Homo sapiens: one gene and its partner. The protein of the gene in region 2 purifies or fractionates together with the protein of the main gene of each other region. This does not show direct contact. Each region holds a gene or a part of one and is shown on either strand. Other genes may lie near its edges.

The links. Proteins that work in one complex are often made in the same cells at the same time.
Region 1: the proteins of DCT (region 2) and ALG11 purify together in Homo sapiens (affinity purification with mass spectrometry; one large-scale study listed by BioGRID and IntAct). This does not show direct contact.

The regions. Positions count from the first base shown.
Region 1 is NC_000013.11:52,029,599-52,031,902, forward strand, and holds part of ALG11 (GDP-Man:Man(3)GlcNAc(2)-PP-Dol alpha-1,2-mannosyltransferase), read left to right. Parts: coding exon of another isoform or gene 1-1,507; 3' UTR 1,508-2,304. Other genes in the region: UTP14C (U3 small nucleolar RNA-associated protein 14 homolog C), read left to right, coding at 1-1,507. UniProt on the Homo sapiens protein: GDP-Man:Man(3)GlcNAc(2)-PP-Dol alpha-1,2-mannosyltransferase that operates in the biosynthetic pathway of dolichol-linked oligosaccharides, the glycan precursors employed in protein asparagine (N)-glycosylation.
Region 2 is NC_000013.11:94,466,106-94,469,759, forward strand, and holds part of DCT (L-dopachrome tautomerase isoform 1 precursor), read right to left. Parts: intron 2,941-3,654; coding exon 2,641-2,940; intron 554-2,640; coding exon 453-553; intron 1-452. UniProt on the Homo sapiens protein: Plays a role in melanin biosynthesis. Catalyzes the conversion of L-dopachrome into 5,6-dihydroxyindole-2-carboxylic acid (DHICA).

The sequences.
Region 1 (2,304 bases), about 42 Mb from region 2:
AGAGTTTGAGCAGCTACAGAAGGTTAATCCAACTGTGGCACTGGAAGAAATGGAAAAAATTGAAAATGCCAGAATGATGGAAAGAATGAGCCTTAAGCACCAAAACAGTGGGAAATGGGCCAAGTCAAAGGCAATTATGGCCAAATATGACCTGGAGGCTCGCCAAGCTATGCAGGAACAGTTGGCCAAGAACAAAGAACTGACACAGAAACTCCAGGTAGCCTCTGAGAGTGAGGAAGAGGAGGGAGGCACAGAAGTGGAAGAACTCCTTGTCCCTCATGTAGCGAATGAAGTGCAGATGAATGTGGACGGACCGAATCCCTGGATGTTCAGGAGCTGCACCAGTGACACCAAAGAGGCTGCAACACAGGAGGACCCTGAGCAAGTGCCAGAGCTTGCAGCTCATGAGGTTTCTGCAAGTGAGGCAGAAGAAAGACCAGTGGCAGAGGAAGAAATTTTGTTGAGAGAATTTGAGGAAAGGCAATCCCTTAGAAAAAGATCTGAGCTCAACCAGGATGCTGAGCCAGCAAGCAGTCAAGAAACAAAAGATTCTAGCAGCCAGGAGGTGCTGTCCGAATTGAGGGCACTATCTCAGAAATTGAAGGAAAAACATCAGTCCAGGAAGCAAAAAGCAAGTTCAGAGGGGACTGTTCCCCAGGTCCAGAGAGAGGAACCTGCCCCAGAAGAAGCGGAACCCCTATTGCTACAGAGGTCAGAGAGAGTACAAACTCTGGAAGAGCTAGAAGAGCTGGGAAAAGAAGATTGTTTTCAAAATAAGGAGCTTCCCAGACCTGTGTTAGAAGGACAGCAGTCAGAGAGGACCCCAAATAATCGGCCTGATGCCCCTAAGGAGAAGAAAGAGAAGGAGCAACTGATCAACCTACAGAACTTCCTGACCACACAGTCTCCTTCCGTGAGGTCTTTGGCAGTTCCCACAATAATAGAGGAGCTGGAAGATGAAGAGGAGAGAGACCAAAGGCAGATGATAAAGGAAGCTTTTGCTGGGGATGATGTCATCAGAGATTTCTTGAAAGAGAAGAGGGAAGCTGTGGAGGCGAGTAAGCCAAAGGACGTGGACCTGACACTACCTGGCTGGGGCGAGTGGGGTGGTGTGGGCCTAAAGCCCAGTGCCAAGAAAAGACGCCAGTTTCTCATTAAAGCCCCTGAGGGTCCTCCAAGAAAAGATAAGAATTTGCCAAATGTGATTATCAGTGAGAAGCGCAACATCCACGCAGCAGCTCATCAGGTACAAGTGCTTCCATATCCATTTACCCACCATCGGCAATTTGAAAGGACCATCCAGACCCCTATAGGATCCACATGGAACACCCAGAGGGCTTTCCAAAAGCTGACTACTCCCAAGGTCGTCACCAAGCCAGGCCATATCATTAAGCCCATAAAAGCAGAGGATGTGGGCTACCAGTCTTCCTCAAGGTCAGACCTGCCTGTCATACAGAGGAATCCAAAACGAATCACCACACGTCACAATAAAGAAGAAAAACTGTAGGTTGTGTAGCTGGAGAAGTGACAGTCAGGGGCCCTGATTCCACTTCCTTTGGTCCAGTTTTACTCTGCTACAGGGTGGATTCCAAAACTGGCTCAGCACATTGCATGTAGTTGAGCCACATTTTTTAAAAAAAGAAAATGGATGACCATTAATTGACTAGCATTTTAGAATTGATCAGACATTAGAACACAGAAAAATTCTAGTACATTTAAATTCTAAACAATACAGTGGATGACCCTTTTGAATATACCTAATGATTTCCTTAAAAAAGAAATTTTAAACAGACTTGTTTAATCGTGTTCTCAAAGCATACAGTCAAGAGGTGGGACTGACTGATGCTTTATAGGTGTGTGTAGGGTGGTAGAGGCCAAGGTGCTGCCAGCAATCCTTTCCATACTAGGTACTGGTGAAAATTGTTTTTGTTTATGCTGTCAGCACATTTGTGTGGGTCTCTCATTGTCCCTTAACAGTGCCGCATCTCAGCCTGGAAGTCAGCTTTAAGTCATTCAAGAGAACCTCAGGCTGTTTTTCTGACAGTGATGATATGATATACAGATACATCCACAGGGTATCTATTACCAGCATAATGCATTGTAAGATGGCAAGGTGGCATTTTGAAAGAGCGCTGGGCAAGCAGTTAGCACATCTGGGCCTACCTTCAGCTTCTTCATTTACAAACTTCTGACCTTTTGACACTAAAGCTGCTCCTTTATCTTTCTGAGTCTCAGATTCTTCATCTGTAATCTGGAGTTGTTAATTCCAGTCCTTACTACCTTTTAGAGTTGGAATGAGATGGA
Region 2 (3,654 bases):
TGCCAACTGAAATAAGACAGATACAGAAAGAAAAACACTGCACTATCTCACTTATATGTGGAATCTAAAGAAAAGAAGAAAAAAGAAAAAGAGTGAATACATAGAGAGTTACATAGTAGTTACAAGGGACTGGGAGAAATGGGAAGATGTAGGCTGAAAGGTGCAAAGTTGCAGTTATGTAGGATAAATAACTCGAGGTCTGAGACTATAGTTAACGTTGTATTGTGTACTGGTGATTTGCCAAGAGAGTAGACCTTAGGTACTCTTACCACACACACACAAAAAGAGATATCTCTATGTGATGCTGAGTATGTTAATTTACTTTAGTGCACTAATCACTTATCTTGTATGAGTATCAAGATAAGTATATCAAAATTCACACTGTATGCCTTAAATATATACAATAAATTTTTTAAAAAATTAAAAGAACTAAATGCATAGTTTTGACCTACCTGGAGATCTCTTTCCAGACACAACAAATGGTACCGGTGCCAGGTAACAAATGCAGGTCCTTGATGTGAGAAATCTATGGCCCTGTAGGGGCGTCCTGGTCCTGAAACAATTGGGAAACATATTAGAGATGACAGAATAGAATTTTTTAAAATGTTAAATCTTACCTGGGCTGTATCTATAGAGCCAATAAGTCCATGATGTTTTATAGTAGTAAGAAAAAAAAGTTTTGTTGTTATTTATATCTCCAAAAGCAATAGTAATGACATGAATTTCAGAAGTAACTAGTACTTTTAGGATAAACCCTCCTTTATCTCTTAAAAGGTTGATTTCTAGCAGAGATCCAGGAAATTCAGGTGACTTTCAGGATTGGGAGCCCCTGATACATATTTAATTTGTAAGCAACAATCCATTCAGGTGAAATAGACTATCCAAAAGAATAGATCATTAAGACCTAAAGGAAATATATTTTTTAAAGGCATTTGCTAACCTATGCTTCACAAAGATATAAATTTAAAAGGGAGGGATTAATTAATAATATTGTAACTTCAACTGCACTTAGTCCTAATGCAGTATTTATGTAACCAAAAAGAACTTTCGCGTATTTTGCCTCACCCATCAATCTGTTATAACTACTAGCTGACAAGCATGTTCGCTGAGACCAGAAGAGAGAAAAATACATTCAAGCCATTTAGGCTGGACACTGGAACTGCCAATTTTAGTGAAAAGCTCTGGACGATTTAATGACCTCCTTACTGCCTGGTCCATCCTTCTTCCCTTTTTCATAACAGCTTTGATGGTTATGTGGAAACTTTAGCTAACTTTAGTTCTTGTCCAAAATACCTATAACAACTTCAGAGAGCTGAACAGACGTGAATATAAATTTAATTCGTAGCTATGACCAGAAACTAGGACTTTCTTTTCCTCTTGAGAGAGTACTCTCTCATAAAGCAATAATTCCTCAGAGTGATAACAGGAAAACTATAAAGGTTTATAGCCAAAAGAGCCTCCTTATCTATCGATAAAGACAGACAGATGCTTACCTGTAAGGCAAGTTTTAAAAGACTCACACTGAGAAAAGCACTGCTGTCCCTGATGTTGGCTACACGGCCCTTTTTCATGTTCAATTCAGAGCAAGGTTTCAAATTCTCAGAACCCAACAACGAGAGGGTATCAATTGAAGGGGAACAAGTGATGAGCAGAAGGATGAACCTGTCCAAATCAGAATCTTGCTCTTCAAAGTGAGCTTGATGTCTTCATTCATCCTGACCCCAATGAAGGACCCCAAAAATGGGGAGAGGTGCACGTGCAGCCATGCATTCAAGAACTGCTATGGGAAGAATCTAGGATGGAGTCAAGCCCTCCTGGAATACATTGGTGTCTATGGCTTTCCTTTGACTGAAAAATAAGGACAAAGCTGAACCTACTTGATACATGAAGTTTGTAACAGACAACCCCCTCATTCCAAGTCCTACCCAGCCCCCAATTTTTAAGACTTGGAAGGGCAGGTCACCAATTTCTCAAGCATCCAACATGACTGTGTTGCAAAGAGCTAAGCAGCAGAAACTCTACATTGCTGTGGCTAAGCTTGTACTTTTCCTTGACAATAAAGCTCCAAGAAACCTGGGGATTCCGGACCATGCAGGAGTACCATAAATGATTATCTGAAAGTCTATCATGTGATAGACTGTCTAAAATCCATCCAAAGTTGATCTATCCTGTGAGTTTAACAAGATGCCCACTCCCAACATGAGCACTCTAATTCCGCACAAAGAAGCTTCATGTGCCTTAGCACATGTTCAGTTAATTCCTCTAATTTGGAGAAAAGGTCAGAGAGGGCTTCCATGGCCAGATTCGCAAATATTTTCTTCTGAAATCAAAAGGAATTCGCCTCCACCTCACCAACTCACATCTTTGATGATTAACAGCTTCACAGAGAAAAGTTTACACTTTGAACCAAGAACATACGGTAGAGGAGAGAACATTTAAAGTGTCTGCATCCAATGCACAGGAAGAAACTGCTTCCTTCTAACTCCAGGCGGTATTTGATAATTCTACGACTTTCATAAACCTAAGGCTGCCTTGTGGTTGCTCTCTTAATTAACTTGCATGAAATTACTTCCCACTGCCATACCCTCAACCCAATCACAAACCTGTAATAATATACCTTCAGCCAAGGAAAAAACCCACCTAATAATGTATCTCTAACAGAATAATAATGGAGCCACACAAAAAAATCATAAACACTGCAGTTGGCAAACTGCGGCTGGGTTCCATTGGGCCCAAGCAGGCCCAGCCAGTGTTGTGTGGTGATCACGTAGTCGGGGTGTACTCTCTTCTTCGCGAGATCTAAGGCGCCCAAGAACTGCTCTCTTTCCTGAGGACTCAAGGAATGGATGTTCTGCCGAATCACTGGTGGTTTCTTCCGCTCGCAGTTGGGACCGGTCCAGCCAAACTTGCAGTCTCCACAATTATAGCCGGCAAAGTTTCCTAGTTCACAAAACAGAAAGATGGAAAGGAAGGGGGTTTATGTCGTTTGGAAGAAATTTCTGAATTTGTACTCTGAAATTTGAATGGAAGAGAAGATGAAGGTGCTTACACAAAGGCAAAGAAAGTCAATTTTCCTCCCATGGTCTCCTCTTAAATGTTTATATCTCCAAGTGGACTAAGCACTAGAGGGTTTCCTAGACACATTCCCAGCAAAGAAACAGGACATGAAATACACTGTATACTGCAATGAGCTAAACCGTGTCCCCGAAGTCCTAGCCCCAGTATACCTCGTATGTGACTATATTTGGAGATAGTGTCTTTAAAGAGGTAATTAAGGGTAAATGAGGTAATTAGAGTAGGCCCTAATCCAATATGACTGGTGTCCTCAAAAGAAGAGGAAATTTGGACACAGTTTTGGAAGGAAGACCACATGAAGACACAGGGAGAAGACAGCCATCTGCAAGCCAAGGAGACAGCCCTCAGAGGAAACCAACTCCCTGATCTCAGCCATCCATCCTCCAGAACTGTGGGAGGGTGAATTTCAGTGTTTAAGCTGCCTAGTCTGTGGGATGTTGTTACGGCAGCAGTAGCAGACTCATGCACACACTCCTTCCTCCCAGGATCGCAGGCGTGTCTCCTCCTGCGTCCACTCCACGCCCACAAAAAGGGATGACACAGAACAGTTCATTGATTTAGAGAAGGAAGAAAATACAC